5 linked regions of the Homo sapiens genome follow. The protein of the gene in region 3 interacts with the protein of the main gene of each other region in a biochemical or structural test. Each region holds a gene or a part of one and is shown on either strand. Other genes may lie near its edges.

Region 1 (5,755 bases), about 140 Mb from region 3:
CAGCCCAGAGAGCCTGACTGGAATGCTCTGGAAAAGGAGCTGTGGTTAGACGGGGGACACAGAGTTCTGGCTGTCAGGCTCCACTTGGGCTAAACCAATTCCAGATGGTCCCGCGCAGGGGACTCCGCTCGTATCCCTCTGCTCCCTCCTGGGCTTGAGCCGCTTACTAAGTGATTTAAAATTCAGAGATTCTGTCAGCTAAAGAAACTCCTTTCTCCACCCAACTTGGCAGTTTGTGTCTGGTTATTACCCTCTTTCGCCATCACTGTCACAGCAATGAAAAGCTGGGCAGAGAAGCAGGTGACAATTTGGGGCTGCTCCCTGTCCCAGGTGCACTGTTCATGCTTCGGGCCTGGAATGATGCCACCCAACAGAAGATTGTCTGCACCCGCACTGGCGCTCACGAGTAGCAGCTTCCGCCATCCAGCGAGCTGAGAAGCTGGGGCCGTTGGCTAGTTTGGCACTGATGGATTGGGGGATGTGGCGTTTCTGGGTGTCCCCTGTGTCTTTTGATATGGGAATACAGCATCAACAGAAGGGAGCTGTGCTAGCGCCTGGCTGTGACCAAGTATCTCCAGCTCACTGAGCTGTCAAGACCGGCAATCCCACTGGCTATGACAAGCCCACCAGCAGGCAGGGCCGGGAGGGGTAGACCTGGGGGGAGCTCGACGACATACAGTATTGTCAGGAGAGGAGGTAGTAACTAACAACTGGAACAAGGGTGGGGGAGACTGTGGATGTGGCCTTAATGACCTAGCCCCATGGGTACTGGAAAGCTGTCGGTCAATTCTGCTGTTCACAAATTCACTGAAAGAGGCCCCCATCTTCATAATGTTCAAGTACAGACAAAATTGAAATTGAGGTCACACCCCAAAACTGGGCCGGACACAGCTGGTGAGAATCCTGCAGCTTAAGGCTTTCCCTCCAACCTCCTGTCAACCTGACCCCAAGGCAGGGGCAGCATGAGAGCTGCAGGGCCCCTGCCTGCCAGGGCGATAAACCGCCAAGGCTGCCTGCTGAAAGGCGACTGACTCGTGATGCCTTTGGGAAAGACGAGGGAATGAGGAAGAAAGGGGGAAATAGAGAGAAAACCCTAAGGAGCCTCAGGCCCCACTGGCAGCTCTGGAATAAACTGGAAGGGAAAGAGGCTGGGCAACTGCCTCTTTGAGGGAGCTGCAGGTGGGGCCCGAATGAAATAAAGTGACGCTTGAAATGCTGTGTTCCCAACCACGACTGCCCCATCGGCCCTGAATGAACTGTCATGGGTGACAGGGGGGCCTGGTGGGCCACGCACTCCTCTTACCAGGACCAGATGACGCCCAGGTGACGGGGAAGCAGCTCTGGACAATGATTCCAGAAGCCACATTACATTTGACTAAGTATAATACATAAAAACCCAACTGACCAAAATAAACATCTTCTCAGTGACAACCTGGTCGGATGCTGCGCTCTCGTGGATAAGTGTCCTTTGGTAGTGCCAGGAGTTCGAGGCCACTATGGGGGCAGGAGCCTTCTGTCCTTGGAGGAAGAGTTCTGGAGGACTCACCCTCTCTTCTGACCCCCCTTCCCTTCCTGGGGAAGAGTCAGAAGTGAAGCTGGGGGGGTCATCAGCAGAGCAGGTGGAAGGGATCAGGGATCAGGGATTGGGCTGATGGGAGTTTGGTTGCAGGACTTGCTTTTACAGCATAAGGAAATGGACACATATATGCTAGAAAGTCCAACTATGAGACTCTACAAACAGAACGGGGCAAACTCCCTCACTTCTAACCATTCCAGAAGAGACAAACACGGTTTTTTCTTAAGCTACTGATTGGAACTGTCAACTATGGTTCCTGATCACTAAAGACTGGCAAGGAAGTGCTAGACAGTTTCTATGATGTTTCACTCCTTCATGATTACACCATAGTAAGGAAGCCAGGGACAATAACTGAAATACACAAGACAACACACACTTGACAGTTCATGGCAGCAGCTCACATGGGACATGCCTGTGGGTGTTTCTGGAAGCATAAGACTGCTGTCTCATTTGCTACTTTGATAAGGTACTTCTCAGTTGGACAGATTTAGATATAAGAGACATCTCTGTAAACACAGAAAAGGATATACCAATATGATGAAGATATGCAGCTAGATAAGGACTTCCTGAACAGAGGTTAAAAAGATGGGATCCCACATGAAAACTGATCAATTAAAAACCCACAGCAAGCCCATGCCTCTAAGCCCCTACACCACAGCTATGGACCAGACAGACAGTGAAATGTGTGGTGTTCTGGCCCCCTGTCTGCATCGAGCAAAAGCAAAACATTGCCATTCAAGAAGAACTCCGAGGGAAAAGGGGGAGCAGAGGAAGGGCTGGGGACCCAGGTACTGGTCCCAGCTCGGGTCTTGGGAGTTCTGCATTGGTACCGCTACTGCCCTGCTGCACTACGCTAGACTCTGGACTTCTGAGTGAGGTCAAGGTCGGCTGGCATGGAGCCCCTGTTGGGCCACTCGATGACTGGCAGGCCACAGGAGGCCTCTGTGCTTTCCTCAACTACCAAATCGGGCCCAGCTCCTCCAGTCCACTTCTCTAGAGTAGAAGGGTGAAAAGGCTCGTTGTTCAGGGTGGGAAATGCCTTTTGCTTTTTCTTACCAGGGAAGAGGGGGCTACCTAGGAGAGCAAGACCTTGCTGCTCTCTTGCTCTTCACAGACAGGCCAGGTCGGACTCAGCAGAGCCCAAGGCCTCCTCAGGGCTCAAAACAGGGTGGGGCTGGTACTGGCAGCAGGAGGACAAAGGGCAGGCAGAGTTCTGGGGACTGGAGCCGACAAGTGTGGTTGGGCACCGCGGCTGCCTGGAAGAGAAGGGATGAACTAGGAAGGAGGAGGATGGAGGAAGGGAAAGAAGTGAAAGGATGAAATGAACAAAAGGCAGAAATGGAAGGGGAGAAGAGAAACCAATCAGGAAGTCCTTATAAAATTGCAGCAAACACTTAGAGTTTCGGAGCTTCGTGGGAACCCTATGTGCTGAGCCCACTTTAAAACAAGCGCAGGTATATATACAAATCCAGGTAGTTCTCAACACTGTCACATCTGGTGGCTTGAGGGACTAAATGTCACCAATTCAAGCCAGTTTGCTCTCAGAGCATCTGTTTGTTTTGAAGTGGGAACATGAAGACTCAATAGTGCAAATAATTCTAAGCTGTCCCTAAAGGAGAATTGGAAAGTAACTGGAAGAACATTTTCTTCTCCTCCCCCTTTGCCCCCTCCCCTGTCCACTAAGTCACAGACTGCTCTGAGTGATTAGGAATCCCTCTCACCCCGCTGTGCTCTGCCCGGCCTGACCCCAGGCCAGCCTGCCTGCACCTTGTCCTACTGCCTCCATGGCCTCTAGCGCCACCCGTTGGAGGACGTCCCTTGAGAATGGACCATGCCACCTCACCCTGGGCCATCCTCTCCTGTGGTTCAGGCCAGTCTACACCCAGTAGTTCAAGGGACTCCCCCCTCCTAGCCATGCCAGAGCTGGAGCAGACAGGTGCCACTTTCCTGTCCTGTGAAGCGTCCTTGCCAGTTTTGGATTGGGGCTGGTGTGGGGCCAGACTTGAGCCACCACGGGTGGGATCGCACAGGCCATAGCCACTGGTCATATCCATCTTCTCTAAAGAATCCAACTGTCTCTCCTGCCTCACACCTCCCTGTCCCAACGTGGTTGGGAGTGGGGGAGGTGGGGGGAGCTGGGGGAGCTGTAGACGGGGCACTGATGGCACCGAAAACGGGAGTGTCCTCTCAACTGCTCTGTCGCTCTGTCTCTAACGACCACATGGGGGAAAGGTTTGGGCGGGAGGGGAGGTGCCTGGTCAACAGCTTGTCTGGTCAGTAGTATCTGCAGCAAGCCTTGTTGAAGGAGCCTAGTTTAGAAAAGTGCAAAGCTACTTCTGGCCCTGGTTAGGTCTTCAACCTGACTGTGCTTGTCGGTAAGAAAAACATCCCCAATGCTCCAACTACTCCCACCCTGAAGCCACGAAACTCTAAGTTTACTGAAAGAAAAAAAAATATTTTTTATTTCAGTTAATCGGGAAGCTTTGTCAGAGCCCTACCCATAAGGAGAAGAGACAACAGCTGCCTTTATTCTTGTTGGTTTGCTTTGCAATCCGCTCCGTGTAAAGTCAGCTAACTCTCTCGGTCACGGGCGTCCGGCTGTCCACAGGCTCCTCTCTGTTTGGCCTTGGCATGGAGGATGAAACAATGTCTTTGCGCTCTCCCTCCCCTCGGTGTTTGTACTTTTCTGCGGCCGTGGCGGCGGTGGCAACCGCGGGCTGAGTCTTAGCTGGCTCCTTGGGGCAGCCGTCGCTCTCCAGTGAGCCTCCTCTGGGCATCTTCTCCTCTTTGCAGACGCTGCTGCTCAAGTCCTGGGGCTCAGGGGGGCTGGTGGGGTCCTCGGAGCTCTCGGGCTCAGGTGGAGGTGGGGGCAGGGGTGGGAGCAGTGGCACGGGGGCCTTTGGGGACTCTGAGTGGTGGTGATGGTGGTGGTGCTCCTTCTTGGGGGGTGAGGAGGCGCTGCTGCTGCGCCCCTTGGGGCTGCTCTCCTTGCTTTTCCGCCCAGGGCTCTTACAGGTCTTCAGTCCTTTCCCGCTCTTCTCACCGAGGGTGGACACCAGCAGGGGCTTCACCACTTCCTTGACCTCGATGCTGACCGTCTCCCGGGTCTTGCGCTTCTTGATGGGGAGTACGGTCTCCTGCACAGATCGGATAGAAGACTCCTTCACGGCTTTCTTTTTGGCCTCGGCGGCAGCGGCTGCCACCACACTCCCCGGCTTTCGGCCCCGTTTCTTGGGAATGGCCTGAGGGTCGGCCTCAGCTTTTCGCTTCCTGCCGGGGCGTTTGATCACCATGACCTGGGTGGATGTGGTGGCCCCACCCCCCTCAGCCTTGCCCCCTGGCGAAGTTTGAAAAGGCATCTTGACAAGGAGCTTCCCAGGACTTTTCTCCAGGACCCTTTTCACCTGCACACCCTCTGACGTGGCCGCCTTGGGTCTCGTGGTGCCGCTCCCTTTGGGGCGTCCCCGGCCTCTGCCAGTTCCTGGAGCTTTGGGAGATTTGGGCTTCTTAGGTGGTTTCTGCTCTCGCCGGGAGGGGCTCCCTCTCCCAGTTACCGTGAAGTCAAAATCATTAGGGTCCAGGGATGTGTCGCCTACCTTTTCGAAGTACGCAATCAACTCCACTTTAGAGCGAAAGGCTTTTCCCTGGGGACTGTGGGGACAAACAGAAAGACACAAGGAACAATTAGAGGCTCTCCATAGCAATGTCAGAGATAGGGCAGAGCGGATGGTGGTGACAACGCTCTGACAAACGTTACTATTGAACGAGAGTCACACTGCCTGGCTGCCCCTGAGGACCTGTCACCAAAGCCACTCACTCGTCTGCCTGCCGCTGACCCCCCCAGGCCTCTCCAAAGTTCAGCAACCAAAGAGTCAGGCCTGGTACAGAAGGGTTGTCAGGCTGAGGCCCATTCTGCTGGTTGGTGCCTGGGCCTGAGTCACCATCTAGAACATTCCCAAGTTTGAACTCAGGTACGGTGCTCAGTCTCTCCAGGAATCAGTTTCAACAAGATAATCCTTTGCTCACCCTTCTCATGGAATTAAATGAGGCTGTCTGCAAATGTCATTTGAAAACTGCTAACCTTTTTGGGATCATTTAAAAGGCAGAACTGAAACATGCTTCTTCACCCCTCTGAACCCCTAGCTCTGCAAGTTCCTCTGCTTCCGCAGCTATTCCATC
Region 2 (5,755 bases), on a different chromosome or scaffold from region 3:
GGGTGGCAGCAGTGGGGAGACGCAGGGGAGGGCCAGGGTGGACGGGCTGGGGGGGTGACGGTGCCCCGGGGACGGCACCGCAGAGGTGGCGGCTGTGGGGAGACGCAGGGGAGGGCCAGGGTGGGAACTGACCTGCACCGTGGAGGTGCCGCCGGCACACCGCCAGCATGAGCTGGAGGACGGTCTGGAGGTCCTGTTCAGCAAGACCAACATCCCTGACCAAGCCGGGCTCCACGGCAGCCTGCCCGACACAGCTCAGCGGGACTTGGGCTGCCACGAGGCCAACACGCACACAGATGAAAAAACAGGCAGAAACGGCGACCACAGCAGAGTCCACATGGCACATGTGTGTTGGCCCACAGGGAGTTTTGAGGGATAAAAATAGTGTGGCTTTTATTTCTGTGCTGGGATCTCAAGGAGGTGGTGCCTCAGGGAGGTGGCCGGGAAGAACCGGGCCAAGGAGCCAGCCACCTGGGCCAGGTGACACGACCGGACCGGGGCCACCGAGGACATCTGCACCAGAGGGACGGCCAGGGCAGCTACCCTGTGACCTCCAGAGGCCAGCAGGTGCTTGCAGGCCACTTCCCAGGAGGCCGCACGGGGCCCGCCCACCATGGCTGCTCAGAGCCGAGACCGCCCAGCACCAGGATGCTGCCCCGAGATGACCCCACGACACCAGGTACCAGCGAGTGCAGGATGGAAGGTGCCCTGGATGCTCCTGGGTCCTGGGGCGAGGAAGACACATGCATTATGTGTGCAATATTTTAAAAGTTGTTTTTAAGATTCTGTTTATACAAAATACCAACAAAAATAGGTGAGGCCTCTGTGAGGAAATCTATGCAATATCACTCTGAGAAAAAAAAAAAATGGATAGGAAGGGCCTCTATGTAACAGGAAGAGCAGGAACCATTAAGGCCGTCAACCCGTAAAGAAAGCCTTGTCTTTGTACACAGACACGCACGTGTTTACACATTCATGTGAACACAGGCACCCAAGAGAAGGGGCTGTGGGGCTCAGCTCTGGGGCATGAGGGCGATGGGAGGAGAGGGAGAGCCGTGGGTCACCACACACAGCCACGCAAGCTAAGTGGACTGCAGGTACAGAAGGCGCCGGTAGGCGACTGCACAGCTGTACCCAGAGCTCACCAGGCCAAGAGCCTGCAGGGACGCACTCCAGACATGAGTAAGGCCAACACCCCTGACTAACAGTCAGTCACTGGGCACACACAGCACGACCCCATTTTTTCATTAAAGCACAGACACATGTTCCCTAACAGTCAGTCACTGGGCACACACAGCACGACCCCATTTCTTCATTAAGGCACAGACACATGTTCCCTAACAGTCAGTCACTGGGCACACACAGCACGACCCCATTTCTTCATTAAAGCACAGACATGCGTTAAACTGAAAAGCCTGGAAGAATCTATGAAAACACTAACCACCAGGCCAGGTGCAGTGGCTCACGCCTGTCATCCCAGCACTTTGGGAGGCCGAGGCGGGTGGATCACCTGAGGTCAGGAGTTTGAGACCAGCCTGGCTAAGATGGTGAAATCCCACCTCTACTAAAAATTACAAAAATTAGCTCGGCGTGGTAGTGGGCACCTGTAATCCCAGCTGCTTGGCAGGATGAAGGGGGAGAACTGCTCCAACCCGAGTAGTGGAGGCTGCAGTGAGCCGAGATCGCACCACTGCACTGCAGCCTAGGCAAGAGAGTATAACTCTGTCTCCAAAAAAAAAAAAAAAAAAAAAGGCCGGCCGCGGTGGCTCACGCCTGTAATCCCTGCACTTTGGGAGGCCGAGGCAGATGGATCACGAGGTCAGGAGATCGAGACCATCCTGGCTAACACGCTGAAACCCCGTCTCTACTAAAAATACAAAAAATTAGCCGGGCGTGGTGACGGGCGCCTGTAGTCCCAGCTACTTGGGAGGCTGAGGCAGGAGAATGGCGTGAACCCGGGAGGCGGAGCTTGCAGTGAGCCGAGATCGCGCCACTGCACTCCAGCCTGGGTGACAGAGAGAGACTCTGTCTCAAACAAAAAAAAAGAGGAAAAGGGGCAAGAAGCTGGGCTTGAACCTGGCTGGACCCTCCGCCACTCGGCCCGGCCTCCATCTGTGACTGGCACCCTGTAAATGGGCACCAGGAAGCTCCGCCACCCTCACCAGGAAGGTGGGGCTGGGCGGCCGTGGGACCAGGGGCCGGGGTGCAGGCCGGATCTGAGTCTCTCCTCCCGTGACGCCCCCGCCCGCCCTCACCGGATGATGTCTGTGTACTCCCGATCCTTCCCCTTGCTCTCTTTCCACTTCCTGTACATCACGGAGGCGTCCACGTTTGCGGGCGAGAAGGTGTTGGGCTCGTTCAGGAGGGAGATCACACTCAGGAGAATGGTCCTGTGGGGAGAGTGGGTCGGAGTGGGGCGGCCCGGGGCACCCCAGCCTTCCGGCTCTTCTCTGGCCCTGAGGGTCACGGGGACGCCTGGACCCACCCAGCAGGTGACCTTCACCTGGCCTCATGGCCTCTGCTTCTGTCTCAGGCCCCCAGAACAGCAGGGGCTGGACCTGCATCAGTCTCCTCCCTCCCACGCCAAGACCAGGGAGGGCAGCAAGGTGCAGACCCCTCCGTCAGACCCGGGGCTGCCCTCACACCCGCACGTCCTGCCTAGACTACACTCCAGGACACACGGGCAACACGGCCCAGTGCTTGTACCTGGGGACGAGGCCCAGGCGGCACACGTGGCACGAGGTGACCAACCCAGAGACGGCTGGGTAAGGAGAAGGCCCCAGGACTGAGGATGGCGGGACACCTCTAGGTGGTTCCAGACGGTGGGGCCGGCCTGGGGTCCTGGTGGGAGTCTGCACCGACACACGGTGCCGCAGGCCCCGTGAAAGCACCTACCGTGCAGGTACAGCGAGGCCCAGGACCGCCAGCTGGCAGGTCCCGAATCAGGCCTTGGCGCCACAGCCTGTGGGGGAGCCCGGCCTACCTGATGGTCTGGGTGGATACGGGACGGAGCCCGGCCTACCTGATGTTCTGGGTGGACACAGGGGGTTGGGCCGGCTTACCTGACGTTCTGCGTGGGGTTCCACCTCTCTGAGGGCAGCTCCCCGCTCTGGGGGTCGTCCACCGGCGGGTGGAGGATGGAGATACACACGTCCCCCGTCTGCACAAGAAGAAGACAGGTCAGAACAGGTCAGAGGTCAGCACGGGCTCCCAGTGCCCCAGGTCCCGGAGGATGAGGACGTGGAGGACGAGGACGTGAGGCTCCCAGCGCCCCGGGTCCCGGAAGGACGAGGACATGAGGCTCCCAGCGCCTCGGGTCCCGGAAGGACGAGGACGTGAGGCTCCCAGCGCCCCGGGTCCCGGAGGACGAGGACGTGAGGCTCCCAGCGCCCCGGGTCCCGGAAGGATGAGGACGTGAGGCTCCCAGCACCCTGGGTCCCGGAGGATGAGGACTTGAGGCCCGTGGGGGCCGCGCTCACCTCGTAGATGTTAGGGTGCCACATCTTGGTCAGGAACCGAAAGGCTGGTGGAGAGTATGGGTAGTCGATGGGGAACTTGAGGCGCGCCTGCAGGGGCAGAAGGCAGGTGGCTCAGTCCAGCCCAGCCCCAAGACCTGCCCCAGCTCACAAGGTGCCCAAGGCCATCCCACTCCCAGTGCTGGTGCCTGAGGGTGTGTGTGAGGGACACCGTATCCTGCCCAAGGCAGGGACTCTCACAGGCCTGGGGTCAAGTCCCCAGAAGGCTGCCTGAAGCCTTTTCTGAGTCACCCGAGCTGATCCCAGCTCCTACACAGTCCAGGTGGCCGGGACCCGGCCCAGCACAACTGCTGGGGAACGTGGGCACTGGCTGCCCGCGTGGCTCCAGGCCCGTGGCAGCCCAGGTCAGGCATATGGGACCCAGGCCAGGGGCACCCACCAGCAGACAGAATGGACTGGCAGGGGCTCCAGGCTCCCCTTGGATGGAGCTGAAGCCCAGGACCAGGGCTGCACCTCCAGGGCCTTGGCAGCCAGGGTGTGGGGAGGGTTAGCACAGATGATTGCTCAGTTAGCAAACACTTGTGACACCTGCCCTGGCCCAGGCCGTGGGAGGGGATGAGTCAGTATGGCCGTCTGCCCTCAGGTGTCCGGTCTTGGGGGGTCAGGCAGGCAGACCCATAGGTCACAGAAACCTGGCAGGACTCCTTCCCTGTCAGCATCGCCCCCTGTGGTCACCCAGGCCCTGGAGGTCCAGATCTGCTGGCAAGGACGGCCACAGAGGGAGGCCTGAAGCCACGTGCCAGGTGACAGAGCTGTCTGGCCTGCAGCCTGGGGCGTGATGCCACCCACGGCCCTCCTGGGCCACAGCAGGTAAACAAGGAAGCCTCACTGTTTTCCTGCTGGGCCCCAGTGCCAGACACAGAGGTTGTCTGGGTCAGGGGTCCTGGTGGCACTCAGCACTCCAAGGCACGAGAGCAGCACCCCCAGAGCGATCGTGGTGGAAGCCTGGACAGGGAGGGCACTCAGGGGGTCTTGGATCGTGGGCGAGGTCTGGACAGGGAGGGCACTCAGGGGGTCTTGGATCGTGGGCGAGGTCTGGACAGGGAGGGCACTCGGGGGTCTTGGATCATGGGCGAGGTCTGGACAGGGAGGGCACTCGGGGGTCTTGGATCGTGGGCGAGGTCTGGACAGGGAGGGCACTCGGGGGTCTTGGATCGTGGGCGAGGTCTGGACAGGGAGGGCACTCGGGGGTCTTGGATCGTGGGCGAGGTCTGGACAGGGAGGGCACTCGGGGGTCTTGGATCGTGGGCGAGGTCTGGACAGGGCGGGCACTCGGGGGTCTTGGATCGTGGGCGAGGCCTTGACAGGGAGGGTACTCGGGGGTCTTGGATTGTGGGCGAGGTCTGGACAGGGAGGGCACTCAGGGGGTCTTGGATCGTGGGTGAGGTCTGGACAGGGAGGGCACTCAGGGGGTCTTGGATCGTGGGCGAGGTCTGGACAGGGAGGGTACTCGGGGGTCTTGGATTGTGGGCGAGGCCCCTCCCGGACAGGCAGGGCACTTTGGGGGTCTTGGATCGTGGACGGGCCCCTCCTGGACAGGGAGGGCACGCGGGGTGTCTTGGGGGGTGTCCTCTGTTTGACAGGGAACTCACTGGTGCCCCGTAAGGCAAGTGACTTGGCCGCGGCCACAGAGCAAGGCTGGAACTTCAGTCTCAGAACTGTCCTGCGGTTCCCCAAGACTTCAGGCCCCCCAAGCCTGGTGCTGGGTTTCAGGCGGCAATCCTTGACAACAGCCAAGGCCTCATCTGTACCAAACCCCACCAAGTCCCAATGAGCCTCTTATTTTGGGCACCTCTAAGAATGTCTTTTCCCCGGAGCAAACCCAGGCTCAGAAAAGGAAAGCGCCCTGCCAAGGGCAGACAGCAAGTCGGCTGTGGAGGGCTCTCTCTGGCGGCCCCTGCCCCAGGGCTCACTTTGGCTCCTGAAGGAACAGCAGCTGCAGGCAGTGGCTGGGCAGCAGCGGCCCTGGGCACTCAGCAGGTTCTGTATTTCCACGCTCCCCCAACTCCCTCCCAGGCACAGCGGGAAGGGAGAGTCCTCGTGGGTGGCAGCACCCCCGTCTCAACACTGGCTTCTGAGGACTGACCCTGTGGCAGATGTCTAGAGGCCCCCTCCCTGGGAAATCCGGAAAACCGGATTATCCCCTAATGCTGGCCCAGGAAGCTCTGCCCACAATCCCTGGCAACCGGTCTGGTGGGCACAGCAGCCAGAAACCCCCA
Region 3 (5,755 bases):
ACATGCGGGCGCCTCTATGTCAGCTCTGCAAGGACTCGCCAAGCCTGCTCTTGGAGAAATGACCATCGGTCGTTATACGGTTGTGGGAAAGATGTAGCCAACACGCCTAATCCAGCCGAGCAGTCGGTTTCGACGGCTTCTGCAGTACCTTATGGTTCTGCCAATGCTCCCTTGAGGCCAGAGGGCGCGCGGCTCTTCGCTGCTTTCCTGCTGGCTGCCAAGGTGCATACACACCAAAAGATGCGAGGTTCTTCTTCCAGCCGGCATGGCGGGGACCTCCCTCACTGGCTGCAGAGCAATCTCGCTGCTGACCCCGAAGACTGACCCTTGTCCAGCCAGAGTTTTCCTGACCACCTTTCCTGAGGCTGAGGGGAAAGCCAGGGGCTCCCTCAGGCCCTGCCTGTGGCTTCTTCGGTTCTTTTTAAAACATGAATCACACAAAGCTCTCTATGTCTGATGGCCATTTTAAGATTTTAAAATTGTTTTAACATAAAAATATTATTTTTTTTTCCAAAAATACTCCAGGCTCTTTCTCTTATAAGTCATTTTTTTTTCTCCTGTAAAAAGCCCCCCTGCCCTGCCTTCTTACATAAAGCACTTACTACGCGCCAAAGTGCCCTTGAGACCTAAGATCTGAAGCAACTATGAGAAAGGTACAGAGGGAGAGAGAGAGAGAAAGAGAGCACGCCAGTGAGAAAGCGAGCGCGAGCGCGAGCGCAAGGGGAGGAGAGGGTGGGAGAGGGCGGAAGGGGGAAAGCTGTCCGTGGGAGATTGTGTCTTCATGTCCACGGGGCTGCATCTCTTGATGGTGCACTGAAAAAGCAGAGCTCACCAGACAGAGTGGAAAGGCAGGGGGAGGGGCAGGGAGCAACAGAAGGAAGAGACAACAAGCCCAAGACAGCTTCCATCTCAGACGGAAGGCCCCCAGAAGATAGAATTCCAGCCGACTGAAAAACCACCCAATGAACAAAGAAGATTCTAGAAAATAGAAAGTGTTGGGATTACAAAGTTGCGCGTTTCATCGGTACAAACTGGTCTTTGAACCTCCTTTGTGAGAGCAATTGTAGTGTCCAAATTGTTAGGGAAAACAAAAAAAAAAAATCCCAAGGAGGAGGGTTTTTCCCCCTTCCCTGTTTGGTTTATCACAGCATTTTGCTTTTTTTTTGGCACAGCTTTTTACGTTTCTTTCCATTCAGCCATCACAGAGCCTGTTCCGGGTGGAAACCAATCCACACGCCTCGAGCTGGTGACTTCCTCCTTCCCAGGCTGAATGTCCTCAGTGGAAACCATTCTATCCCCGTTTGATATGATTTGCTTCTGTTTTTGCTTGCCTTTTAAAAACTTCTTGATGAAGATTACGAAAACATATAGACTCCTGCGGCCAGAGACGAGTTGGTTTCAGAGTACACTCTAACGCAAGTCAAGTTCCTACAGTTTTGGAGAATAGAGCTGCAACCCTACACATTCACGGCTGGTCATTAGAATTCTTTTCTTTTTTCGATAATATTTTGTGGTTACTTCCGCAGATCCAAAACACACACCTGGAAGGAAAGATAAAGCACCTGTCATCTTGAGAGACAATACAAAGATGCCTTTAGAGTGAGAAGTCGGCAAGCTACGGCCCCCACGCCCAATCTAGCCCTCCACCGATGTTTGTCAGTAAAGTTTATTGGAACATCGTCATGAAGGGTCAGAGAAGCTCTCATAACAGACTGGCATCTGGACATCGGACCGAGCAAACTGAAGCAAACAGCACAGAGCAGAAAGGCCAGGTTAAGGGTAATGATAGGAATTAACAGAGTGGCAGAGGTCCCAGAAGGGACACCTGCAATCGTGGGGCAGATGACAATACGAGCCCAAGTACACAGCCTCTGACAACATTTGGGGACTACTCTGACCCTTGGCCGTTCAGCCAGAACGGCCGCTTGCCCCAGAGGTCAGGGCAACCTCAAGTCCAGGGGAAAATAAGAAATCCAGATGCCCCATGGGAAGAGAAGAGGGCCCAGGAGACCTGCAGGATGGCCACCAGAGGCCCGGGCTTCTCAGCCACAGCATGGGTGACAATTGTGGCCACCCTGTGCACAGTAGGAGGTTTAGCAGCATCCTCATCTAAGCACAGTCACGCGTCACATAATGACGTTTCCAGCAACAACGCACCGCACAGACCGCAGTGGTCCTGTAAGATTATAACCATATATCTGCTGAACCTTTTCTATGTTTAGATAGATCCGGACGCACAAATGCTTACCATTGTGTTCTGGTTGCCTACAGGAATCAGTATGGTCACCCGCTGTCCAGGTTTGTAGCCTGGGAGCAATAGGCTGTACCACACAGCCTCGGTGTGGGACAGGTATTATCATCTAGGTTTGTGTCAGTCACTCTATGATGTTCAGACAAAGATAAAAGTGCCTAATGACACATTTCCCAAAACGTTCCCGTCATTAAGCGACACATGACTGTAGTGACAACCTAAAATGGCTCCAGATATTGTCTAATGTCCTTAGAGGTGCAGAATCACCCTGGTTGAGAACCACCAATTTGACTGAGAAAATGTTGACTAGAAGGACACTCTGGAAGGGACAAGGAGAAGGCCATTCCCAGATGTGGTACCAACTCCGATGGGATCCAGCCCAGAAGCTTCCTTTGGCACTGGGCTAGGCCCTTCAGGACACGAATGCTGCACACGCCCTGGAAGCTCACTTAGGCATCAGCTGCCCCCAACACCCCACTCCCCAGCAAACCAGAGGTGTTGCTTACAGAGCCGTCGGACGCGCTGGCACCCACTTTGTCTCCTCGGGCGTTCCAGCACACCTCGAAGATGCCGCCAGTGCCTCGGTAGCTGTGGACAAGATTTCCACTCTGCAAAGCAAAGCAGCTGTCACTTACAACGCAAGGGGCGCCTGCGACAGATGCAGGTGTGGAATGTGCGCTCCTCCGGCCCTGACGTTTCGTCATGAACATTTTCAAGCATGGTGAAATTTAAGGGTTTTCAGTAAGGACTCTGGGGGCCATGGAGATGTGCCTCTAGGACTTCCCACCACGAGGAGTGAACCTGATTACTTATGCCTGCGGAATCTGCCACATTTGCGTGGATTCTGAGGCTGCACCCAGCTGAGGACTGATGGAGGCGGGAGACCATGGCAGTCACCTGCTGAGACTCAGACTCATCTGGTGGGTAAGTGGCTCATGGACTCTCCATCAGCACGACCAAAACTTTCTACAGACCTGTAAGGGCCATCCCTGACTCTTCCTACCCTTCCCGTCTCCTTCCCAGGGTCAGACTGGCCTTATGGTCTGAATTCTCCCTTCCCCCTACCTTCCTCCCTGTTTCCATCACAGCTCTTTCCCCCAATAAATCTCTCGCCCATCTAATCCTGTTCTGGTGTCTGTTCTTTGGAGGACCTGAATGAATACAACATAATGAATACACCCACCCCAGTAGCAATTAAATTGACTGTAATTCATGATTAAATGTAATAATATGCCATGACATTAAAATGTACGTATTTTTGGACATTTGAAAGAAGAAATGCATAATATACATGTAATGGAAAACACCACAGACCATTGGTTTCCGGTTTAAAACAGCATTAACTTGACAAATCTAAGAGGTAGGGGAAGTTGAGGCCTTTGAAAGAGTTGAATAAGGCCAGGCGAGGTGGCTCACCCTGTAATCCCAGCACTTTGGGAGGCCGAGGCGGGAGGACGGATTGAGCCCAAGAGTTCAAGACTAGCCTGGGCAACACAGTGAGACTTCGTCTCTACAAAAATTAATTTTAAAAAATAAAAAAGAGAGAAAGAGTCGAATAAGCCTTCACTCATGATTCACTATGGTGACAGGCAGGAGAAATCTGAACACCGAGACCAGGAGGGCTGTCCCAAATCCTCTGCTCAATTGGGCCCCTTAAAGGGTGGTGTTCCATGAACTGAGAAAGGTGTGTGTCGGCAGTATTACAGATAAGTATTTTTATACTTGGAGAAAGATTAAAGTGGGCTTTAAGATTTCTCTTAAGAAAATTCCTAAGGATTTCTTGGCCGGGCGCGGTGGCTCATGCCTGTAATCCCAGCACTTTGGGAGGCCGAGGTGGGTAGATTGCCTGGGGTCAGGAGTTCAACACCAGCCTGGCCAACATGGTGAGACCCCGTTTGTACTAAAAATACAAAAGTTAGCCGGCTGTGGTGGTGCGCACCTGTAATCCCAGCTACTCGGGAGGCTGAGGCAGGAGAATCGCTCAAACCCGGGAGGCAGAGGTCGCAGTGGGCCGAGATGGCATCACTGTACTCCAGCCTGGGTGACGAGAGTGAAACTCCGATCCAAAAAAAAAAAAAAAAAAGAAAAGTCCTAAGGATTTCTTTGATTTATAAAAAAGGGTTGAAACAGTTCAGTGAGTTCCTGACAACAGGCTGTACCTAACTGATCATGTCATTGTTTTGATAATTGATGTGTTCTTTTTACAAATCCACCCATTACTATTTCTAGCGAGGATTTCAGGAACGGAGACTCTTGGACACTAGTGCTGAGATGCGTGCTTCCCGGAGAGCTATCTAGGGCTGTGGGGCTGGGCTTGGCGTCGGGTTGGCTCTACGCAGGGTCCACCATTTCCCTTCCTTCCCTGAGAGGATGTGGTTCACATGAGGTCCCTGGGAAGCCTGTGATCTCAGTGGACCCCTTGCCAGTGAACAGGGCTCATCACCATTGAGTCCACAGGGGGAATGAACTTGAGGGTATAAATCCACCTGAATGTCAACCAAGCCAAAAGGAACCAAGAAGGCAGTGCAGATGAAAGGGGGCAGGGGGAAGGCTGTGTGATTCCTCCCCTCCTGAGGCGAAAGGGACCCCTTCCTTATTTTCAACAGCTCCTAGCATATTATCACCTCTCTCTTCCCTTAGACTAGAATCACGTGCTGATGGCCCTATACAATCCTTTATGCTATGCAGTGCTACTTCCCATCCATTTCTACACTTTACAGCTGGAATTCTTCTATCCTCAGGTGTGGCCCAAGATACCCACAGCAGCCACCTTTATTTAAATCCTATGTCCTTTCAATCCCTGCTAAAAGGACAACCCAATATTGACATACCTTATGTCCTCAAACAGAACCTACTTTGATTTGAAAAATTGAGGCTAGGCACGGTGGCTCACACCTGTAATCCCAGCACTTTGGGAGGCAAAAGTGGGCGGATCACCTGAGGTCAGGAGTTCAAGACCATCCTGGCCAACATGTGAAACCCTGTCTCTACTAAAAATACAAAAATAAGCTGGGCATGATGGCGGGTGCCTGTAATTCCAGCTATTCAGGAGGCTGAGGCAGGAGACTTGCTTGAATCTGGGAGGCAGAGGTTGCAGTGAGCCAAGATCGCGCCACTGCACTCCAGCCTGGGTGACAGAGTGAGACTCCGTCTCAAAAACAAAAACAAAAACAAAAAACAACAACAACAAAACAAAACAGAAAAGAAAAATTGAAGTGGCATGACAACAGCAAGAGCACATTCCTTCCCACTCCCTGGTCTGCTCCGTAAGGGAGCTGCAGGAGCTGGTGTGGCCTTGACCCCGTTAGCTGGTCCCCCACTCCCACCTTCTAACCTCAGTATCTAGAGAGCAGCACTTCGGTGATAACTGCTAAGAAGAGGAAGAGGCAGGTGGAAGGTTTCGTGCCATGGACTCAGAAAAGTGAACAGAAGACAGCGGCTCCTTCAAGGAAGAACGTGTGCCAAGGTGAGGGTTTGGAATCAAATGGCCAAGAGCCATGATTA
Region 4 (5,755 bases), on a different chromosome or scaffold from region 3:
CTGCTTAATCGTCAATAACCAAATCACTCAGTTAGACATTACCTGAATAATGAAAAGTTTGGGTTTTCCAGTTAGACTTCTACAACGATCCCCTCTGAAAAAGTTTGTTATTTTTTTCAGGTCAACAGGTCCATTTGTTCCAAAAATTATTCCTTCTTCACCATGGCTCAGAAGCACACAAACAAAACTGCTCCTTTTGCTGTGATCTTCTTTAGAAACTGTAAAGACATTTGCAAATAAAAGGAAAAAAAATCCATGACTTTATTCAACAACTTCAGATATACTGTATGGGAACATGATGAAGAAACTGAGACTAAAACTAAGAGGTCATCTTAACCTAACCTGGGGCACGGCAACACATCTCAAACCATTTTAGGAAGTTGGCATAAATAACTTTTTTTAAACTTCTTACTAAAGTATGTAAGATTAGGGTTATGTACAGTATAATTCCACAATTCTCATATTTTATTATACATATAATTATTGCTAGACCATAGTATAAAATTAATTGTACAATGAAGTTCATTCTAATTGTTTCTTCTTACCATCACGCATCAATTCCACAATTTCTTCACGTGTAAGATCATTTTTATTCCTGACTTCATATTTCAAGTTTCTGAATGTTTCCCTGAGGTTTGCTGCATCGACATCTGTACCAGACCGAGATGTCATTCCTTGGAACAGAAAGAATTACTTTTAATTGTATGGAAAACAAAGAATAACTACTTTGAAATGAAATTAACTACTCAGCAATTCAGAAGTCCACAATAAATTCTTCCTTTTAAATGGTAAGAGAATTCTAACTATTTTGAACATGGTGAACAAAATTTCTTCAATTTTGTAGCTTATAAGATACTTCATAATATAAGCTCATCAGTGTTATAGCCAAAATGATGTCTTTCACAGCGGTTTAGGTAGTGAAAAACACAAATGTCTAACAATAAGGGTTTGGTTAGACAAGCTATACTAACTTATATAATGGGATATACTATGTTGTCATTTTCACAGATAAAATGTTGCCATGGGAAAATCATCAGTTTAAAAAAATAAGACTAGAAAACAATACGATCCTATAATACATACACACATCTGTCACACTCAGAGGAAATGCGTTTCTCTGACTCTAACTTCCCAACAATTTTAAGATAGCATTACAACATTTATAGTGCCTTCAAGGAAAACCCCCAAACATTATTACTGTTCATCAGGTATTCTGCTATGGCTAATCTCTAATCCTTCCAATCACCATGAGAGTCATATTATTACTAGTTTCACTTGTGCAGATGTGGGACATGTAGCAGAGTTAACAAACCAGTCCAAAGTGACAAAGCTATGCTGGGCCTGTATCCAGGGCTCCTGGGCTTTCTACCACTCCTTTAGAGAACCTTCCACATTAACGTACAGATTGACTGCATGATGCACTCAGATTTCAAAATGCTAAATCTTGGTGGGAAACATCCCTCAGAATTGAGTAAATTTGATGGGTATGAAGATTAAATACAGAAAGTCTACATGTATCTCCAAAATGTTGTTGATTATCTCAGCTGTGTGACAAGGTCACTGGCTTCTGGTGCTGATGTGTTGGCTGCCTTTTAATTTTTATTTATTTTTATTTTTTAGACAGGATCTTGCTCTGTGGCCCAGGCTAGAGTACAGCAACCACAGCTCACTGCAGCCTCAACCTCCCAGATTCAAGCTATCTTCCCACCTCAGCCTCCCGAGTAGCTGGGACTACAGGTGCGCACCACCACACCCTGCTACCTTTTTTCTGTTTTGTAGAGATGGGATTTCCCTGTGTTGCCCAGACTGATCTTGAACTTTGGTGCTCAAGGATCCTCCTGCCTTGGCCTCCCAAAGTGTTGGGATTACATGTGTGAGCCATGGCGCCTGGCCCAACACCAGCCTGCCAGAGATCTCATGAGAACCTGACCTTTACATTGCAAAGTAGGAAAGGAGCTCACTGGGCAAAACCCAGACTGCTGGTCTAAATATGTGGGGGGAGGTGCTGGTGGTAGTGGAATAATATGCTTGTTTTTGGTTTTTGAAACAATAGAGCCAACAGTGCAAAATTCTATAGGAAGGAGGTATCCTAACTAGAAATGTGAGGCAGAATATCTAGAAGTAAATTTTCAAATATGCGTAAAGCAAAAGTAAACAAGGTGTTGTGTTTTTAAGTTAATGGTTGAAGGTGGCATCTCAACTTATAGCCAAAAGCAATAAAACTGATGCCATTTAGAGCTCCATTTTCAACTATTCTCTTCTCACTCCTTATAATTAATCTGACACAAACCCTGCTATCTTCCCAGTGTAATCTGGCTTCCTTCCATTTCCACCACCACTCTGATAGGTACTGGCCCACCTTAGATCTACTACAGCTTCTCTAATTAAAAATTAACTCTAATATGATTAATAGGCCAATTCAAAGAATTATCATAGCATCAATTTAAAAGGGAAACAGCCATAATGTTCATTCATACAGTAAATTATTCAAATTAAGTGAATGGTAGTTTTGGGGATGCAGTATTATATAATCATTATAACAGATATGAAAATTATGCAGCAATATGAAAAATGCTATTCCTTTAAGTGAAACAAGCAGAAGACAACATTGCTTATACGTTATGAATAAAATCAAGCTTTAAAAAGAACTGCCAAGAAAAAATAACAATACACCAAATATTAATTAGCTTTTTTGGCACTGTGAAGGATTTTATTATCTATATTTCTAAAAAAACATTCTCAAATGTAGTACTACATTCAAGTTGTACATAGTACAGAAATCGAGAGGGGGATCTGGTGGCAAGGCCATGGTAAATTTAAAGCAAGCAGTTTTAGTAGTAGAGACAGAAAATGGAAAAAGACTCAAGAAGGAATGGAAACAAATGAAGAGTACAAGCTTAAACTACATGTATTCAAAATTTAAGGAAGAAGGGAAGGAGACAAAATATCAAAGGAATCAAAAGGAACAGAGTAAAAGAAAGGTCTCTCTAAGATGGGGAGCTTCGTAGGGTAAGGGAAGACAGGCAACAGAGCACATGAGGATACAAGGAAGTGAAGCAGAACAGAAGATGGATTCAGAGCTTGGGCTTTGGAGCCACACAGACCTAGCTCTGCCGCCATACTGTGTGACTGCGCGAGGTCTTTAACCTTTCAGAATCTCATCGTTACTTTCCAGGTTGTCATAAATTAAATAAGGCAATGCTTGTGATATCTCTTGCAGTTTCTGGGGAAAAAATAAATACTACCACTTAACTGTTTTTTTGAGAACCTTCCATTGGGATCAAAGAGGAAGCAGAAAGAAGAAAAAGAAGCAAGGGCTACAGAGAAGTCAGGGCAGAGGCAACCAAGCATACAGATAGGAGGCCAGCAAGAGGAGGCTATGAAGTTGGGCAGAAGAGTGACGCGTTCACAGTGTATCAGAGGACCTGTAGGTCCTGCCCAATCTCTACTTCACAGCTAGTCTGTGTCACGGTTTACTGTCTAATACCTCAATAATACTGCTTTTAATATTATATCAAATGTAAATGGCACAAACATTTGAAAAGGATTAAAAATTATGTAAGACACATACCAGTGCTTTTATGAAAATTCTTATTATTAATTATTATACATAAACCCATCTCAGGATAATCCATTTTATAACTGTTGTCCAGGGATATTCCAGAGTCCATTGATTCGCTTCCATGTATGATCTTTCTGTTTAGAAATCAAATAATAGCTTTACAAAGGTAGAAATGACCACGCCTTCTGTTTATATTAGTGCAATTTTTATAACTCACAGTAACAGTTAACACTTGTTGAATGTTATAAACCAGGCTGTCTTCATTTCAATTTCACATCAACAGTTATACAGATGAGAAAATGACCTGACGTGAGGCTAAGTAATGTGCTAAAGGTTATGCAAATATTGTGTCACAGCCAAGAAGGAAGGAAAGCATCTGTTGGACTTCAGAGTTCAGGCTTTTAACTTCCATGTTTTACATTTTCCTCTAAATTCTTCAAAATTTCATCAAATACCTTTATAATTTAAAAATTACTTATTAACTTTGTGAAATATTTTATCCTTTGAGGTAAGAGTAAAAATCTTAAAAATTACCCTGAAATGATGGGAAATCAACAAAATGCAAATATAACTCAAAGCACAATATTTATCACAATTCATAAATTATTCCTTAAACCCCATGAGCTAAACAAATTAGTAATTTATTAATATATAAAAGCATTATTGTAAATAATTGAAAATATCTGTCTGGAAGTCACTTATCTAAAAAAACCTCTGCTATCTAGATTGGGGTCAGTAAACTTTTTTTTTAATGGGCTAAATATTAAGTGTTTTAGGCTTGTGGGCCATCTGGTTTCTGTTACAGCTACTCAATTCTATTCTTTTTTTTTTTTTTTTGAGACATGGTCTGGCTCTGTCACCCAAGCTGGAGTGCAGTGGTGCCATCATAGCTCACTGCAACTTTGAACTCTTGGGCTCCAGTGATACTCCTTCCTCAGCCTTCTGAGTAGCTAGGACTACAGACAGGCATGCCCCACCATGCCCAGCTAATTTCTGTATTTTCTTTTTTAGAGACAGGATCTCGCTATGTTGCCCAGGCTAGTCTTGAACTCCTGGCCTCAAGTGATCCTCCTGCCTTGGCCTCCAAAAGTGCTGGGATTACAGTTGTGAGCCACTGTGCCCAGCCATAGCTGCTCAATTATACTGGTGAAACGGGCTTAGGACAATATGTAAGCGAATGGATGTGCCTATATTCCAACGAAAGTTGATAAAAACAGGCCTTAAGCTTGATCCCTGATCTAGACCAAGAGTCAGGCAAAAACAGGTCTAGGAACTACCAAACACTAACACCTACAGTCCATATACTCATGCACTTAACCTTAAGAGCATCTCACATTATACACAATTCCAAAAATACTGTTGGAAAAAGATTAAATGTAGTAAATTAAAGGAGTCAACGTGAGAAAACAGTTATGATTTTTAACCAGAGGTGAACAGCCTCACATTTACAGACTGAAGTTAAATCCTGAAAGCGTGACTTGACCTTTGAGTCCTACAGATGATGGATCATGGGACTTATGACTCCCAGCTCCCGACACCCCTTCCCCACGTGCTCTGGGTGCCTCCTAAGGAGGTAGGTACTTTACAAGCATATGATAGCTAGTCCACGAGGGGATACTCCTAATAAAAGGCAGAGGCTGTGAAAGCCGGGACTGTGAGGGCAACTTACCAAAGGATCGAAACAACCCTAAACCTGTCTGGGGCTTCCGTGCAACTTGTTATTGAAGTGGTGTTCTGCATGACATGAAAAGGTAGGGCCAGGCAGGGTGGTTCACACCTGTACTCCCAGCACTTTGGGAGGCCGAGGCAGGAGGATCCCTTGAGGCCAGGCATTGGAGACCAGCCTGGGCAACACAGCAAGACCCCCATCTCTACAAAAATAAAAAACAAAAATAACCAGGCATGGTGGCACATGTCTGTAGTCCTAGCTACTCAGGAGGATTACTGGAGCCCAGGAGTGCAGTGAGCCATAATCAGATCACTGCACTCCAGCCTGTCTCAAAAAAGAAAGAAAAAAAAAATAGTAGGAAAATGTGTAAATCACTTTCAAAGGATTTTTTTGAAGAGATGGGGTCTTACTTCACTGTAACCTCTGGCGTGTAGCTAGGACTGACTACAAGCACACACACTATGGTGGACTAATTGTTTTTTGTTTTTTTGTAGAGACAGGGTCTCGTTATGTTGCCCAGGCTG
Region 5 (5,755 bases), on a different chromosome or scaffold from region 3:
TCCCTCAACTTTTTGTTTCTGACCCCTCTCCTAGCCCAGCCTCCCTGGTAGAATCCTAGAGAGACACGAGGTGAACCTGTCCATCTCTGCCCTAAGAGTATGAAGAATCTCAGTTCTTCTGACTGCCCATTCAGGGCTTTCTTCTTGATCTATCTACAAGGCAGAGGATGGTGGAGAGGGAAAAATAAACGTCAGCTGCTCACTGGGGATAATACAGCCCCTCAGTCCTTCAGCTCAGGCCCTGATTCTGGTAGGGCCTCAGATGAGGGTATTAGGGGAAGAGGGAAGAGGCCGTCCTGACCTAATCCACCCTCAAAAGCTGGGCACATCCCACATTACCTTTCTCACCCCCAGACAAGTCCATCCCAAGCCCTCTAGGAGGCTCCCCCCAGGGAACACATGAATTACTGTTCCACATCCAGGTCCAGAGGAGCCCTGGCTGGGTTTGGTGGGGTTGGGGACGTGGAGAAGGGGCACGCACAGCCAGCCTCACCTGACATGCTGGTTTTCAGGGAACATTGGCCGTTCTTTCTTTTTCGCTTTCCATCTGGTGACCTGGCACTGGATGGAGGCAAAGTGGGCAGAATCACAGAGCAGTCTTCGAGTAGCCCCTTTCTCATCCGAGAGGCTTATGCAATCCCCCAAGGCCTGATTCTTTCCATTTTGTGTCCTCATTCTACCTCCCACCCCCCAGGGTCAGCTGACAATGCTTAAAAGGGTCCAGTTATCTGGAAGTTGCAGGGGAGAGAGATAAGGGGCTTGGCTGTGGCACAAGCATATTCTAGAGCCCCAACACACACACATTCACCCGCCAGAAGACCTGAAGCACCCATAATCTGCAGGACATCCTCATCTTTCAGTACATGACGAATACGCTGGAAGAATTCTCAGGATATGCTTAAAGCTATGTAGCCTTTAGAACACACACATACATATGCAACATAACACCGGCACAGATGAATAACCATGCAACCTTCACTATAAACCCATGGATGGTGAGTATGCACCAGGGCCAACATACCTGTGAAATTTTCAGGGCATTCTTAAATGTGCTATACAACCTCTAGGATATGCCCATGTGTTACACAACACTCTGCACAGGCACCTCATAAAACCACCCTCATCCCTCCAGTGTGCACGTGTTGCTTGAGCTCCAGGTCATACACACATGCTAAATAACCCACAGCAATAGAAAACACTACACCCTCTGCACAGCCTCCATTTAACAGAGCAGCAAACTGAGACCCTGCTTGTGCCTGGTGACACCATGAGCTAGAGTCAGAGCCGGGACTGAGCCCCTCTGTGCAGCGTATTATTAGCAACCCTCAGCCACTGCACATATATGTTGCCAGGCTCTCCACATACATGTTGCATAACCTCGGTGCACACAGGTTACATAAGCCCTCTACATGCATGCAAGGATTGTATAACCTCCCGCACCCACCCTGCGTGTGGCATGTTGCAGGCCCCTTCCTCCTGGAGCCGGATGCAGCTCCCAACACACTGACACAGTGACCTTGGCCAGGGTCACAGTCACAGACAACCCTATGCTCCACGCCCCGTGGGGATTACTCCGGTCTACTTCCTATGAGGCTGAAAGGTCAGGTCTCCCTCACGCCTCCCAGAGGGTTGGGTGCAGGGGAACTCAGCCCACCTAGGCCCCAGTTGAGCTAGCGGCTTCAGCAGTTACCACCAGACTCACAGCCTCTGAGTGTAGTCCTAGAGATAGCCACAAGGTGGCGCATAGACATGGGGGAGGGGAAGGTGATGGGGGAGGGGTTGCAGTCTTAGGAGACTGGGAACTGGCATTCCTGCCTTTCTCCAAACATTAAGCACAGACTCTTCCAGACCCACAGAAGCCTAAGCTGGGAGACACAGGGGCTGCAAGTGACAGCCACACAGCGACAGGCCAGATCGTCCTCAGAGTCCTTCCTGGGGTGAGGCTTTGGGGGAGGGGAGCTACCCCATGCCCTGCCCAGCTGTGAGTTCCATCTACTTCCTCTACCCTCCAGGGACCCAGTTGTGGGCCTTAGGGCTTTGCCTGGCCAGGCCTCTGGCTTCCTGGCTCGGGATCTGATCTCCTAGGCAACAGTCAGCCACACTGCTCCCCGGAGCACCCCCACCCCCACCCTCTCCCTGGCCATAGGCACAGGCTGTACCCAGCTCCCAGGGCACCGTGCCAACTGGGACAAAGCTCTGTGCCACTTGGAGCTGATAGAAAAGACAGAGACCCTCTGGGCTCCTCAAGGGCAATGCAGATCACAGGTAACCATCCCTTGGTGTATGTGCAGGGCTGACACCTCACCCATGTGGAAGCAAAACCATCATGGTTGGCGTGCACTTTCTGGGAGGAGCCCCATCGCAGTGCCCGCCCTTGACCATGAACAAGGAAGAGCTTGTGGGGCTCCCAATAGATTCCGAATATAAGCTTGGGCTATGACCAATAGTTACTGGTGCATGTGCCCTGAAATGTATTACGTGAACCGCAGCTTGTGGACAACACACTTGTGGTCAGATAGTAAATGGGCTGGTAGGGAGAGGAAGAAAATGGCAAGGCTGTTTGGATCCCACATGCTCAAGGTAAGGGCAGCAATGGTGGAAGGGACGTTGGGGGCATCTGAGACTGCCCAGCAATGTCTAGGGAAGAGCCCCTTATGTGCTCCCTGTAATTGCTCTGTATCGCTCCCCGCTTCAAAATGAGCATCTCTCAATCCAAGTGCCTGTCACATCTGAACATGACTTCATCTGCCAGACAAAGGTAGGCAGAAGGCTTGCTGGCCTCACGTCCATCCCACAGAGGTGCTTAAAGGCGGTGCCTAAAGGAGAGCTCAGCCAGGTGCCCATGCCTGCTGCTTAGGAGTTGGCATGACCTAGTTGCTGAACCCATTACCTGTTCTCCTCTGGGTCTGACCCACACTCCACCTTGCTTGGCTTCTGTTCCATTCACTTCAATTCCATCCAGGATGCCCTCCAGCACGCCAAGAGACTGGGGTGGGCACACTGGCCCCCCCGGCACACCCACAGGCCACCCACCCCCTGCCACCCAGGCCCTAGGGCACAGCACCCATGATACCCGCCTCAGCACTTGGCCTTTCACACCATGCCCTGCGCCCCAAGGGGGGCGGGCGGTGGGAGGGGCCAGGGAGTGGCAGGTGGGAGGGCTGGGGGCAAGCTGGGTTTGTGGGTCCCGGGCTGTGTGCTGGGGGAGTAGCTTCGGAGTCTTGTCCTGTCCAGAGATCCCTGTGGAGAGAAGAGAGAGGCAGGGGTAAGAAGGTGTCACGGTAGGAAGGTGGGTAGGATCCCTTTGGTGGCAACATTTGGGGCTTTGGGATCCCATAACAAGACAGCAGGGGGCAGGAAGGGCAGGCATAGAGAGGGGACCAGGATGATCCCTTAGATAACAGGTACAGCAGGCGAGATTGGAGATCCACCTCCTAAGCCCCAGACATGGGAAGGAATGGAGGGAGAGAATGAGATCATTCATGTACTAAGTAATATGTCTCAGTCTTCATATTCAGACAAATGCCTGGCCCTTAATGAGCAACTATTAAACACTAGCTATTGTTACCACCCCTCTAGAAAAGCTTTCCTGAAACTCATCTGTATTATAGGGGCAAGAGGGGACCAGAGACAAGCAGTTTTCAGCATAGGCAGGGAGGGTATCTGTGAAGGAAGGATGGGACATAGAGCGGCACGCAGTGAGCATGAATGCCCATCTTTGTGCCTTAATAGAGAGAGATGTTGAAAGCTGTAGGGAACTGACCTCCCATGCTGCCAGCCAAGTTATGATCCCCAACTCTGGCCCCTCAGGGACTCCAGAGCTTCCCACGCAAGGTCTCGAATCCCACTTCCCAGGCAGAGGACCAGACTTCTCAGTTGGTTTAGCTGAGCTGCTATCGACCAGGATGGCAAGGGGGAAAGGAAAGGAAACTAACACATATTAACTGGAGAGAGAATCTGTACCCTCCAAAGAGGGCACGAGAACTTCACAGATGAGGAAACTGAGTCTCAGAAAGCTTGGTCATTCACTCAAGTTCACACAACTAGTAAGCAGGTGGCTGTGGGATAAGCCTCACAGCCTGGCCCTAATGCTAGCCTTGTTCTGCTACCTGGAGTCCAGGGCAGTGCCAAGCCGGGCCCACCATTCCTACGGCATTGCACCTCTGACCCTGGGCTGCAGACCTGTGGCTTACTGTCTGTGTGCACACAGGCAGGTGTGGCGGGTAGGAGGGGGACAAAGGGTACAGCTCCCCAACATACGACCTCAACCTCTGTCACGTGGCTGCTGCATAGGAGACCTCACCCCTAGGCCCCCTGGCCCCACCCCCAGGAGCTGATAAGCAGCCAGGGTGGGAAGAGAGAGGGAGATAAGTCAGGGGATTGGGCAGGGCCAGCAGCAGAACGGGGCCTCTGCACCCAGGCAAGCTGGTAGTGTGGAGAGCATGGGCATTGCACAGAAAAGTGGCCCGTTCTACCTCTGATACCCACCCCAGACCAGGACTGGGCACTGGGGGCTGGACAGGAGACTGGGGTGGGGGGGCATGAGCAGGGAGCCTTAGCCCAGGGAGCCATCAAGAAAGTAGGTCAAGTTTTTCTTGGCTTGTGGAGAAATTCCTGTTATAAATTTATAATGGCGTAGCCAGCCCTAAGGGGTGGAGGTTGGGGAGGAGAAGGAGTGGGTGGGGAAGCCCAGGGGCTGGGCACTGGGGCCTAATGCTCTCAGCCAGACAGTGAGGGGCAGGGGGCGAGGGCCGCTACGGGGGTTGGGCTGGACAATAGAGGACGATCTTCTGACTCCACGTCCAGCGAGGCTGCCTGCATGTCTGTCTGTCTGTCTGTGTCTGAATGTCTCTCTCTCCGGGTCTGGGTGTCTCCGTCTGCCCCCCAGGCTGTGCCTCGGTGCTTGGCACACCCTGGCTGTGGTGCTGCCCCCGCCTGTCTCCTGCCCGCCTGGCACACTGCCACCACTTGTTTACAGAAGCTGGAAAAATCCACTCGCCAGCCGGAGGCCCAAGCGCCCCCAGGGAGGGGAGGAGGCAAGCACAGGAGTGGGCATGCTGAGAGAGGGGCAGCCCCGGGGAGCAGGTCCTGGGGGCAGCCGAGGAGGACCAGTGTGTGCAGGAATGAGCACTGGCTGCTGTGGGCCGGGCCAGGCGGGGAACACCAGTGGCAGCCACATGGCATGGGCAGCTCCTGCCCCAGGCCAGGGCTCCTGAGGGTCCCCTCCCCCAGGCCCCTGCCACTTACCAGTTGCTACATTGCAGACCTGGAGCAGTGCCAACCTAAGCCACCATGTTTATTTCCCCATCCCTCTCTCCTGCCCAGCCTTAACTCCAAATGTGTCTGGGTACTGCCAAGGGCCTGCACGTGCCCACTGGGGGGAGGGGCAGACTCGCTCTCTGCCCCACCCCTCTTTTGAACTGAATGGTGCCCTGGTGCTGGGCAGTGCAGCCCAGCTACAGTCAGCCCCTGGTAGTGGGCAGAGGAGCAAGGTGCTGCCCTTGCTGCCTAGGGCACCCTCACTGGGTACCCAGAAAGAGGCTGGAACCCCTGGGGACTCCTTGGCATCTCTCCAGGGACACACTTGGGCCTTTGGGGTGATACAGAGGCGAGGCAGAGGGCCCAGCATGTGGGGAGACACATACCACATGAGCCTGTGTTAGCCACGGACAGAAAAAGGTCAGCGGGTAAGGGGCATGGGGCAGGGGTACCCACCCTGAAGGGCAGCCTCTCACCCCTCCTCCAGAGTCCAGCT

What was found.
Region 1: the proteins of TBL1X (region 3) and MECP2 form a complex in vitro, tested with the Homo sapiens proteins (one study listed by BioGRID).
Region 2: of the proteins of TBL1X (region 3) and CDC34, one has a biochemical effect on the other in vitro, tested with the Homo sapiens proteins (one study listed by BioGRID).
Region 4: of the proteins of TBL1X (region 3) and CASP3, one has a biochemical effect on the other in vitro, tested with the Homo sapiens proteins (one study listed by BioGRID).
Region 5: the proteins of TBL1X (region 3) and THRA form a complex in vitro, tested with the Homo sapiens proteins (one study listed by BioGRID).

The regions. Positions count from the first base shown.
Region 1 is NC_000023.11:154,026,224-154,031,978, forward strand, and holds part of MECP2 (methyl-CpG-binding protein 2), read right to left. Parts: intron 5,231-5,755; exon of another isoform or gene 5,228-5,230; coding exon 4,144-5,227; 3' UTR 1-4,143. UniProt on the Homo sapiens protein: Chromosomal protein that binds to methylated DNA. It can bind specifically to a single methyl-CpG pair. It is not influenced by sequences flanking the methyl-CpGs.
Region 2 is NC_000019.10:533,648-539,402, reverse strand, and holds part of CDC34 (ubiquitin-conjugating enzyme E2 R1), read right to left. Parts: intron 3,567-5,755; coding exon 3,480-3,566; intron 3,161-3,479; coding exon 3,063-3,160; intron 2,391-3,062; coding exon 2,256-2,390; intron 726-2,255; coding exon of another isoform or gene 413-725; exon of another isoform or gene 367-412; intron 1-366. UniProt on the Homo sapiens protein: E2 ubiquitin-conjugating enzyme that accepts ubiquitin from an E1 ubiquitin-activating protein, and catalyzes its covalent attachment to other proteins by an E3 ubiquitin-protein ligase complex. In vitro catalyzes 'Lys-48'-linked polyubiquitination.
Region 3 is NC_000023.11:9,712,006-9,717,760, reverse strand, and holds part of TBL1X (F-box-like/WD repeat-containing protein TBL1X), read right to left. Parts: intron 2,860-5,755; coding exon 2,758-2,859; intron 1,542-2,757; coding exon 1,515-1,541; 3' UTR 1-1,514. UniProt on the Homo sapiens protein: F-box-like protein involved in the recruitment of the ubiquitin/19S proteasome complex to nuclear receptor-regulated transcription units. Plays an essential role in transcription activation mediated by nuclear receptors.
Region 4 is NC_000004.12:184,631,723-184,637,477, forward strand, and holds part of CASP3 (caspase-3 isoform a preproprotein), read right to left. Parts: intron 3,697-5,755; coding exon 3,572-3,696; intron 675-3,571; coding exon 546-674; intron 219-545; coding exon 43-218; intron 1-42. UniProt on the Homo sapiens protein: Thiol protease that acts as a major effector caspase involved in the execution phase of apoptosis. Following cleavage and activation by initiator caspases (CASP8, CASP9 and/or CASP10), mediates execution of apoptosis by catalyzing cleavage of many proteins.
Region 5 is NC_000017.11:40,071,677-40,077,431, reverse strand, and holds part of THRA (thyroid hormone receptor alpha), read right to left. Parts: intron 4,844-5,755; exon of another isoform or gene 3,764-4,843; intron 3,241-3,763; 5' UTR 2,944-3,240; coding exon 2,891-2,943; intron 562-2,890; coding exon 494-561; intron 1-493.